Linked DNA regions of Homo sapiens. The protein of the gene in region 2 purifies or fractionates together with the protein of the main gene of each other region. This does not show direct contact. Each region holds a gene or a part of one and is shown on either strand. Other genes may lie near its edges.

The links.
Region 1: the proteins of EPHX4 (region 2) and RBM6 purify together in Homo sapiens (affinity purification with mass spectrometry; one large-scale study listed by BioGRID and IntAct). This does not show direct contact.
Region 3: the proteins of EPHX4 (region 2) and SERPINB7 purify together in Homo sapiens (affinity purification with mass spectrometry; one large-scale study listed by BioGRID and IntAct). This does not show direct contact.

What each region holds. Positions count from the first base shown.
Region 1 is NC_000003.12:50,072,506-50,076,161, reverse strand, and holds part of RBM6 (RNA-binding protein 6), read right to left. Parts: intron 990-3,656; coding exon of another isoform or gene 983-989; exon of another isoform or gene 968-982; intron 962-967; coding exon 832-961; intron 1-831. UniProt on the Homo sapiens protein: Specifically binds poly(G) RNA homopolymers in vitro.
Region 2 is NC_000001.11:92,032,832-92,036,487, forward strand, and holds part of EPHX4 (epoxide hydrolase 4), read left to right. Parts: intron 1-3,656.
Region 3 is NC_000018.10:63,795,826-63,799,481, reverse strand, and holds part of SERPINB7 (serpin B7), read right to left. Parts: intron 3,217-3,656; coding exon 3,099-3,216; intron 879-3,098; coding exon 736-878; intron 1-735. UniProt on the Homo sapiens protein: Might function as an inhibitor of Lys-specific proteases. Might influence the maturation of megakaryocytes via its action as a serpin.

The DNA.
Region 1 (3,656 bases), on a different chromosome or scaffold from region 2:
CTCTGTCTCTACTAAAAACACAAAAATTAGCTGGGTATGGTGGTATGCACCTGTAATCCCAGCTACTCAGGAGGTTGGGGTGGGAGAATTGCTTGAACCTGGGAGGAGGAGGTTGCAGTGAGCTGAGATCGCACCACTGCATTCCAGCCTGGGCGACAGAGCAAGACTCTGTCTCAAAAAAAAAAAAAGAAAAGAATCTTTCATTATTAAACAAATACCCAAGATGAATTAAGGTGGGTGGTGATGCTATGATTGCAAGATACAGGCTTTAATACCAGAGATATGAGAAACTCGGTAGGAGAGAAATAAGCCAATCTCTTATGGTTGGCATTTTCAGAGGAGAAGCAAGCCAACACAAAATGGGTAATGTTTCCTCTTATCACCTTTTCTAGAGGCTCTTGAAATATGAGGGGCAAAGTCCTTCATGGGAACCAGAACAACATGCTCCTTAAATTTTAGCCACCAAAGACTTCCGCTGACAGTCCCTCTCAGAGATGCCTCTGTACCTTTCATTGCTGATTCCCTGGTTCTTTTGCCCAAATGATTCTTCAGTCTCAAACTGCCTCAGATACTGCTCTACTATTTACTCCATGTAAAAGTATGATGAAATCCATTCCAACTCCTTCCTTCTCTTCCTAACTCCAAACTGCAAAGGGCCCAGCCTGCCAAGCTATAACCCAGTATTCAAGGCTAAAGTGTTCAACTCTCATGTCCTATCCCAGCAGTAGAGAAAGCCCAGCAAAATGGCAAAGACATCACTCTAGGCCAGAAAGTGAAAGTTAATTACATTCCAGGTTCATGTCACCCCCCAAAAGATGGAAACCATTTTACCTCCTCTGATGAAGCCAATCCAGGATGGCCATATCCCAGGCCTGTCCCTTTCCTCCAGCCAGTAGCCTGTTGGACACAGCCTCCTTTGCTGCTAGTGTCGATATCTTCTTTATCAACAAGTTTACGATCACTGCAAAAGAAGCAGACACCATCACTTCCTTTTTTTTTTTTTTTGAGACGGAGTTTCACTCTTTTTGCCCAGGCTGGAGTGCAATGGCTCGAACTCAGCTTACTGCAACCTCTGCCTCCTGGGTTCAGGCGATTCTCCTGCCTCAGCCTCCCGATTAGCTGGGATTGCAGGTGCCCGCCACCACACCTGGCTAATTTTTAATTTTTTTTTTTTTCAGTAGAGACAGAGTTTCACTGTGTTGGCCAGGCTGCTCTCAAACTCCTGACCTCAGGTAATCCGCATGCCTTGGCCTCCCAAAGTGCTGGATTACAGGCATGAGCCACCATGCCCAACCTGACACCATCATTTTGATGAAGACCTGCTTATAAGCCTAATATAAAATCTCTGTCCTCTTGATTCATATCTGCCTCTTATTAAGTAAGTATATTTAACAGTACCTCTGAGTGCCTGATAGCTATGTTTTGTTGCTGGGTACACAGACTACTAAGATATGGCCCTGTTCACAAGAAAGGTCTCAAACATTATGTCAAGAGATGCTTATAGAACATTGAAGAGAGCTCAACCATGGATGTAGCAACAGTAGATGTCTGCTATAGAAATACAGTAGAAGGAATCACTTTGGGAGGCTGAGGTGGGCAGATCACCTGAGGTTGGGAGTTCGTGACCAGCCTGACCAACATGGAGAAACCCTGTCTCTACTAAAAATACAAAATTAGCCGGGTGTGGTGGCGCATGCCTGTAATCCTAGCTACTCGGGAGGCTGAGGCAGGAGAATCGCTTGAACCCAGGAGGTGGAGGTTGTGGTTAGCTGATATCGCGCCATTGCACTCCAGCCTGGGCAACAAGAGTGAAACTCTGTTTCAAAAAAAAAAAAGAAATGCAGTAGAAGGAACGAAAACTCTGAAGGGGCATCACCAAAAATGACAGGAATTTCAACAGGAAGATACATCTGAATTGGATCTCGAAATAAGGAGTTTGTGTAAGAGAAAAGGAGGACACAAGCAAGGAGACACAAAAGACAATTTGTCCAAGAGAGTAGTAGTAGAAACTGACAAAGGTAAGGCTGCTTGGTGGCCGGGTGCAGTGACTCACGCCTGTAATCCCAGCACTTTGGGAGGCCAAGGCGGGTGGATCACCTGAGGTCAGGAGTTCGAGACCACCCTGACCAACAGGTGAAACCCCTCTCTACTAAAAATACAAACATTAGCCCATAGTCCCAGCTACTGGGGAGGCTGAGGCAGGAGAATCGCTTGAACCTGGGAGGCGGAGGTTGCAGTGAGCCAAGATCGTGCCATTGCACTCCAGCCTGGGCGACAGAATGAGACTGTCTCAAAACAAAAGGAAAAAAAAAAAAGGCTGCATGGGGTCAGACTGTAAAAAACCTTGAACTTATTAAGCTAAATCATGTCTCTGAACCTCATCCTTCTGGCAAAAGTTGGAGCTCAGGCCTCCCTGTAGGCAAGGTATACGGTTTGTAAAAAGACAAGTTATAAGAGTAGATTTCTCTTTACAAAAGTCATTTTGGTGGCAGGGTAGAGAATGGACTGAAGAACAGTGGGAGCAAAGACTGGGAGTAGGAGTCCAGTGTGGAGGTGGAATAGAATGGGAGATGCTGTGGTTTAAATGTGTCCCTCAAAGTACATATGTTGGAAACATAATCCCCAATGCAACAGTATTGAGAGGTGAAACTTCAGGAAGTGATTAGGTCATGAGAGCTCTGCCCTCACAAATGGATTAATGCTGTTATTGCAGGAGTGGGTTCTCCTGATAAAATGATTAGTCTGGTTTCTTTCTCCCAACCCCCTCTTTTGCCTAAGCTCTCTTGTTCTTTTACTTTCCACCATGAGGTGACACAGCAAGAAGGCCCTCACCAGATGCAGCTCCTCAATCTTGGACCTCCCAGCCTCCAGAAGCATGAGCCAAATAAATTTCTGTTCATTATAAATTACCCAGTCTGTGGTATTCAGTTATGGTATCATAAAACAGACTAAGACAGGGGGCAAGACTTAATTAGGGATTTGGTCACTAATTGGACACAGGGGATAAAGGAGGAGGATGGATCAGACCATGTAGACAGTGATGCTATGATGCTGCTACTCTGAAATAATAATACAGGAGATTTGGACTTGTTAGACTGTGGTGGTGGTTGAGGCCATGGGTACCTTAGAAAGCCCAGGTCAAGAGGGTAGAGCAGCAAGACCAAAGAAGCACTGAGAGAAGAGTCCTAGAGAACACCTGGATTTATCCAGAAAAGGAAGAGGAGCAGAAAAGGTGACTGGAAAGGAGAAGAGCCAGGAGAATGTGGTATAAAGGGTGCTGAGAATAAAGAAGGGTCTCTTTCCGCACCCCACCTAAGCCTTGTCCCAGAAGACTCAAGGCCAAGGTGTCCTTCCTCCTGATGGCTGACTCCTTCACCTAGTCCTAATCCACTGTATTTCAAATTGCAGAGAATGACCCAATGGAATGTCACACTAAATGGTCCCACTGTAACAACTCATAAAAATGAAGAGAGACTAGACTTGAATAAAAATATCAGGGTTCACTGTACCTGGTAAGAAAGTATTTTAGATGAAAACTTTTTCAGTTGTGCACACACACACTTTATTATTGGGCCATGATACAAAAATACTTCTCTTATTGTGGGTTGGATCAAATAAGCTGGAATGCCAGAGCCCCAAAACCTGTCCAGCCTCCT
Region 2 (3,656 bases):
GCCCTTTCATAGTGGCATTATTTCCATCCATGAGGGCAGAGCCTGCATGACCTAACCACCTCTTAAAGGTCCCACCTCTTAATACTGTTACAATGGCAATTTTTGAGACAAGGTCTTACTCTGTCACCCAGGCTGGGGCACAGTGGCATGATCACAGCTCACTGCAGCTTTGAACTTCTGGGTTTAAGCAGTCTTCCCACCTCAGCCTACCAAGTAGCTGGGACTACAGGCATCTACCACCACACCTAGCTTTTTTTTTTTTTTTTGGAGGTGGGATCTTGCTATATTGCCTAGGCTGGTCTTGAAAGCCTGAGATCAAGCAATCCTCCCACCTTGGCCTCCTAAAGTGCTGGGATTACAGATGTAAGCCACCACGCCAAGCCTCTTGTAATGACTTTTAACAGACCCTACTTTTTGATCATGTGCCCAGAGTTAATATTCCTAAATGTTCCTGAATCACAGGTCTTTTTCCTCCTAAAAAGACCTACCTGCTACCAATTTAAATTTATATATTTTTTTGAGGATTAAAAGAAGTATCTTTTAATGTTTCAAATTTCTGAAATAGTAACAAAACAGTTTGTATAGAGTATCTACTATAGACAAAATACAACACTGGGTAGGGAAAGGAGATTTTAAACAAACCAAAGACGTGGAGTGATTGTTATTAGGAAGATTTTGGTGAGGCTGGGGTGAGGAGAAGGCAGAGTAGAGCACTTATGGAAACTGAAAATGAACTATTTCCTATGCACAGAGCAATAGGCTTATATGAATGCAGGATAATTTAAGTACCTAAATATTTCTCATTAGGAAGAAAATCTGGAGCCCCAAATATGTAATTATTAGTTACTATCTTCGTTCATTTTTGTTGCTAACAAAATACCTGAGACTGGGTAATTTATAAAGAATAGAAATTTATTTCTCACCGTTCTGGAGACTGGGAAATCCAAGATCAAGGCACCAGTAGGTTCAGAGTCTGGTGACATCCATGTCTGTGTGTGTCCAACATGGTGCCTTGTTGATGTGTCTTCTGGAGGCAAATAAACTTCATCATATGAATTTTGGGAGAACATATTCAGACCATAGCAGTTACCTAAGGGGAAGTGTTCTGTTCTCTATTGACCCCACTGGGCCAAATAAGTACAGATGAAAGCAACACATGTTTAAACTTTTTTTTTTTTTTTTTTTTTAATGAACATCTTTAAAAGAGGTGGTACATATCAGGAGGCCGAGGCGGGTGGATCACGAGGTCGGGAGATTGAAACCATCCTGGCTAACACGGTGAAACCCTGTCTCTACTAAAAATACAAAAAAAAAAAAAATTAGCTGTGCTTGGTGGCAGGCGCCTGTACTCCCAGCTACTCGGGAGGCTGAGGCAGGAGAATGGTGTGAACCCAGGAGGCGGAGCTTGCAGTGAGCCGAGCTCGTGCCACTGCACTCCAGCCTGGGCAACAGAGCGAGATTCCGTCTCAAAAAAAAAAAAAAAAAAAAAGGGTGGTACATATCATGGCAGTAAAAGAAAACCAGTTTTTATAGCACAGGGCTATAAGAAATAGTTCATAAACTAAATAGGTCAAGAAATTGATGTTTTTAAAAGCCCAGTTCCCTTAGTTGACTCAAAGGTGGAATATCTGGTATATTTTGAAAGGTCTAGGACAATATCCTGTCCCCAAATTCTCCCTTACTATCTTATAATTCCTAGAATTCCAGCATTACAGATTTCTTACCTCCTTTAGAGTCTTAAAGATTTTATGTCACTCAAAATCCTGATTTAAAATGCATCTAGTGCTGAAAGGATTACTACCTTAAGACGCTTCTTTTTTTTTTTTTTTTTAAACAGTCTTGCTCTGTTGCCCAGGCTAGAGTGCAGTGGTGCAATCTCAGCTCATTGCAACCTCCATCTCCTGGGTTCAAGTGATTCTCCAGCCTCAGCCTCCCAAGTAGCTGGGATTACAAGTGCGCACCACACCCAGCTAATTTTTGAAGTTTTAGTAGAGACAAAGTTTTACCATGTTAAACAGGCCAGGCTGGTCTCAAACTCCTGACCTCAAGTGATCTGCCCCCTTCAGCCTCTCAAAATGTTGGGATTACAGGTGTGAGCCACTGCACCCGACCCACTTTAGTTAATACTTTGTGAGTGAAAGGGACTTTATGAATAAATGTATTGAGGATGTTAGTGTACTAGGAGGTATTAGGCATTGAAGAAAAGAGTGGAGGATGGCAAAGACACCTATACCTAATAATTTTTCCAGAGTGAGAAGTCTTCCTTAGAAGATTTTCCCTGCATGAAGATTTTTTTCCCCTTCTGGATTTATGTGCATAAATAAACATAAGTCATTTTCATGTTATGCTTTGATCTGTTCTTTCATTTGGAGACAGCTTAATGAGGTGGTAGATTAGCTGCCCAGTGCAATTCGAGCATATGCATATGGTCTCACCTTATGGAGTGCGTGGCATAATTAGTTCACAATAAAATGTTACTCTGAAACACTGATCAAATCTGCCTAACATAGCATGGGCAGTACATTCTGGCTCAACCACTAGTTTGCTGAAGAACCCTAAACAGTCATCTACAATGATGTTGCAAAGTTGGGTGAGGATGAAGAGAGTCAAAATGTCGAAAATCTTTCACGTGGCCCCAGTGAATATTCAGTAAATACTCATTTTCTTCCTTCATTCCCATTCATTCATTGTGGAGATCCATGTGTCAAATAATAATTTCCTAACTCTGGTGATGATAGTTAACATTTTCTAAGCATTTACTATGAGCCAGGCACTCTCTTTTTTATTTTTATTTTAAGTTCTGGAATACATGTGCAGGACATGCAGGTTTGTTACATGGTAAACGTGTGCCATGGTGGTTTTCTGCAACTATCAACCCGTCATGTAGGTATTAAGTCCAGCATTCATTAGCTATTTATCCTGATGCTCTCCCTCTCCCCACCCCCAACAGGCTCCAGTGTGTGTTGTTCCCCTCCCAAGCCAGGTACTTTTGTAAGTGACTTATATATACCATCTCATTTAAGCCCCATAGCTACCCTTCTGAAGTTGGCAGTGCCAGAAAGTCAGGTGTCCCTTGTTTTTGAAAGTCAGGGCTGACCTCTGCAGTTTGTTCTCATTCTATAGGAATTATAGTAATCTGATCCAATAACATGCATGGATTTTTACCTTTCAAATGTCACACCTTATACAAACATTCAAGAGGGTGTTAACAAATCAGCCAACAATATAAAAATACCTTAATTTAACATTTTAAATCATCATCCTAAATAAAATTCATGCATCGGAGAGATGATACTTAACTTTTTAGAAAGAAAACATTTGAAAGCTATTTTCTTTCTCTACCTCACACCAACCCCAGTACTTGGCCATCCTTATTCCCCTGGAATTTCACCTCTTTACGTGCAGAACAATATACACAAAGATAAAAATGAACCTACAACCACTTTCATACAGGGCAGTAGATGCTCTCTGTCGTATTCTAAGAGATTTTGTGCGTGTTTTTCACAGTCATGTCTCATTATTTACTCCTCATGAGAGCCCTTTTGCAAAATAGAAATGGCTGGTGATTCTTGTCCTAGAATCATCAGGGGATGAAACAGCCTAGGAGGGGGTCCAGCACTGGTCCCTGGATATCATTCCCATTTGCCCCCGCAAAG
Region 3 (3,656 bases), on a different chromosome or scaffold from region 2:
GAGTGTTTAAAACAATATTATGATATAGTAATGCTTTTTAAAATAAAAAGAAATTAGGAGAAAAAGAATAACACATGAAACAGGAATGCAGCTTCTGTGAAGCAAGGCAGGGGCCCCAATACAACATTCCTGACTGCAAGAGCTTTGTTGTTTCTGCTGTACTAAGATTACTGTGTACAAATTGATTTTAAAACCCAAGAATATATGTTTTATAAAGGTTGGCAATAAGATGTTTTAGATCAAAAACAGAACTAAATGAAGAAATACATATGGCTTGTACTTGGAAATGCATAACTTTACTAAATATAACTTTTCCCCTTGCAAAAGAGAACACATTCCCTGCTGTGACTCAGGAAAATCATTGATGGTAAATGATTTTAAGTATAGACCTCATGGTTAAAAAAATGAAAAATGAAAAATACACTTTTGTCATATATTTTCTTATAGGTCTCCAATTATAATATCTTAAGATACATTCATACCACTTCTTTCAATTTTGAATGTATTTTAAAGAATACCAATTTACAAGACACGTTTGGTGGTGTTTCATAGCCTGCATGACAGGGAAAATAGAAAGTTTGCTTTATAAAGCAACTGACCATATGATATTGGTAATGCAAAAGAAGAAATGGGTTTAAAACGGTGAACCTAGAGTTTACTATGTAACTATCACAGTCCTGCAAAGGAATACGATTGTGGAAAAGTTCTAAATTAAATAGGAGATTGACGACATACCTTGGGAGATTTGAAATGGCAATTTATGGTTTCGCTCTTGGTGAAGGCTGATTGCCACTTGCCTTTGAAGTACACAGCATTCACCAGCACCATTACAGCAGATGAGCTTATGCCACCTTCACCAATCACGTTCTTGATTTTGCCTTTTGAAAAAAAAATTGAGGGAAAAATGTTTATTTTAATATAATTTTAAAAATGATTTAAAAAGACCATTAATTGGTATGAAGTTTTTTTCTTAACACATAATAACACCAATAAGAATATTAAGAATAACCTATGAGCAATTAATGTGTCCAGCACTTTCTAGGCCCTTTAAAGGCAATCTTTGGTTTAATCCTTACATAATCCCTGTGAGGTAGGCACTATTATTGTTTCCATTTCCTGTTGAGGAAGCTAAGGCACAAAGAGATTAAGACACACAACAAGAAAGTGATAGCAATAGGATTCCAACCCAGGGAGACAACCCCAGGGTCCCTGCTCATAGGTACCAAAGTGCCTTTACTGCATTGACTAGGCCACCTTTTGCTACTACAGTACTTCAATCCATTGAAAGGTAATGCCCTCCTTCATTCCACATAAATGAAATTTTTGCTGGATGCTATGCACTATTCTGCATATTTGAATTACAAATATGAAAGACATAGCCTGTGCCATCATTGAGCTCCCAGTCCAGCACAGAAGAGTCAACATCCAAAGAGCAGTTGTAACCCACCAGTAACATAGAGGTCTGACCTCAGTGCACTGTGGGAGCACAGATTAAAGTCACCCAACTTTTTCTGTGGCTATCTGCTTTAGCTGAAGAACAGTGGGGAGCAGGAAGAGCTTCCATAAAGCAGAGACTATTTATTCAAAGGCACAGAAACCTGAAAGAGCAAGGTGTATTTGTCGGGGAGAATAAGGTTGGCAAGATTGGAAGCAAGGGCCTGATAATGAAGAGGCTTGAATGTCTGGTAAGAATTGTGGATTATTTTGAAGATGATGGGAAATAATTGCTCAGGATTCATTGAAAGACAAGAAAGGTCATGGTCATGATGGATCTGATTTGCCTTTCAAAAGGATGGCTCTGATATTGTGTAGAGGATGTGGGCTTCAAGACCTGGGTAGGGTTGTTTAGAATATTGGCAACATTTTAAAGTGCTTCCTCAAATAAATATTGAGTAGATATGCTTATGAAAAATTAGAGTAATTATGCATAGATTTACATGAGAAAGGAAGAGAAATAAATAACTAGTCTAAATAGAAAAAGTTGTTAGCAATCTGACACCCTTATGTTAAATATTAAATAGAATCCCACCTAGATTTTAGAAGAGTAATAATTACATAGTTTGTCTTGATTTATAAGTGCTATATATGAAACAGGTGATGGCTAAACATCAAAGTAACCCACTATGAATATAATGAGGAATGAATGAATAAAAAGAAAATTTATACACTGCATTCTTAGTCCCAGGACTAAGTGTATGCTGCTGAAAGTTTGCATTTAAAAGTGCAAGATATATTATATCATATTTCTGAGGCACAGCTAGGCTTAGTAAATACAGGTACAATATTTAGAGTACAAATCAAGGCCAACCCTTAGGTAATGAAACAACTACTAGCTTTGGAATTGGTTGATGAACAAAGCAAGGATTAATAAATTTCTTTATTTGCTTTGCACTAAACCAGAACATTAGCTGGAATTACGTTTTTAGTTGTGACAGAGACTTACCAATAAAGAGCTGTACTTTTTCTGGAAGGTACTACCTTTGTTACATAAATTATTTTGGTAAATAAAGAACATTTTTAAATGAGAGATATACTATACATCCTTGGAAAAAGCAATATCATGAAAATACATTTCTTTGACAGTAGAATGTTATAGCTTTAATAAGATTCAGTCCATAAAGCAATTATAAAGTATGAAAATCAGCCCTATCTTTAAAAAATAGGTTGATTATTAAATGAAATGTTATGCTGTGGTCATTGAAAATAATAATGTGGTCATTGAAAGTAATAAGAAAATAATAACTCTTAGTTTTTGTTCACTAACGAGGGTGAGATATTGAGGTTAATTTATCAAATTAACTCAGCTTGTTATTCATATATGAAGTGGTCACAATAATATGTTTGTCCTGCAGGGTTTTGCCAATTAAATGAGATAATGTAAAAGACTGAACTTCTGAAAAGTACAAAGCATTCAAATTATTAAGATTATTCCAAACCACATTGCAGACAAATACTAAAGCAATTTTAAGTAGCAGCAATCATTACTTTGAACTAGGAGGAGCTGTTCCTTGTATGTACAAAAGACTCCCAGCTTTTGTTCCCAGTATTCACATATAACTGACAAATCTTGTAGAAAAATAGGGTATTTCAATACTCACCATGTGTTTCATTTTCAACCCACTTATTAATATTACGTCTAGTGTCTTCTAAATGATTCGTAAAGTCAACTCGCTCCACTTTGGCATCGTATAATTTTTCGGCACACTCAATGTAGTCCTATAAAGAAGAATATAGTTCTCGTATTTACAAATCATCACCAACTAAGTATATAAGAAATGTATTTTTGAACTTTTAATTTCGACTGCTTTATTCAAAGGTTCAACTCTGCCTCAAAAATGAGTATGTAAATATAGGGATATATGGAAATGGGACTGGAAGGGGATCTGGTGTATCTGAAGTTGAATTTGTTCAGCAAATACTCTGTTTAAACTTAAGTTTATCTGAAATGGATTTGAGGAGGCTAATAGAGAATGGATAAAGCCCACCCTTTTACCACTGCGTTCTCATATTAAATAACTCAATAGCCTCCTAACCAGTCTCCCTTGCCTGTGTCATCCCTTCCTGCTGCAAATTTTTCAAGGCTACATTATTGCACTCAAGACAAAGCCCAAGCTCTTGAAACTTGCCGACAAGACTCTGCTGATCCCCACCCTGCT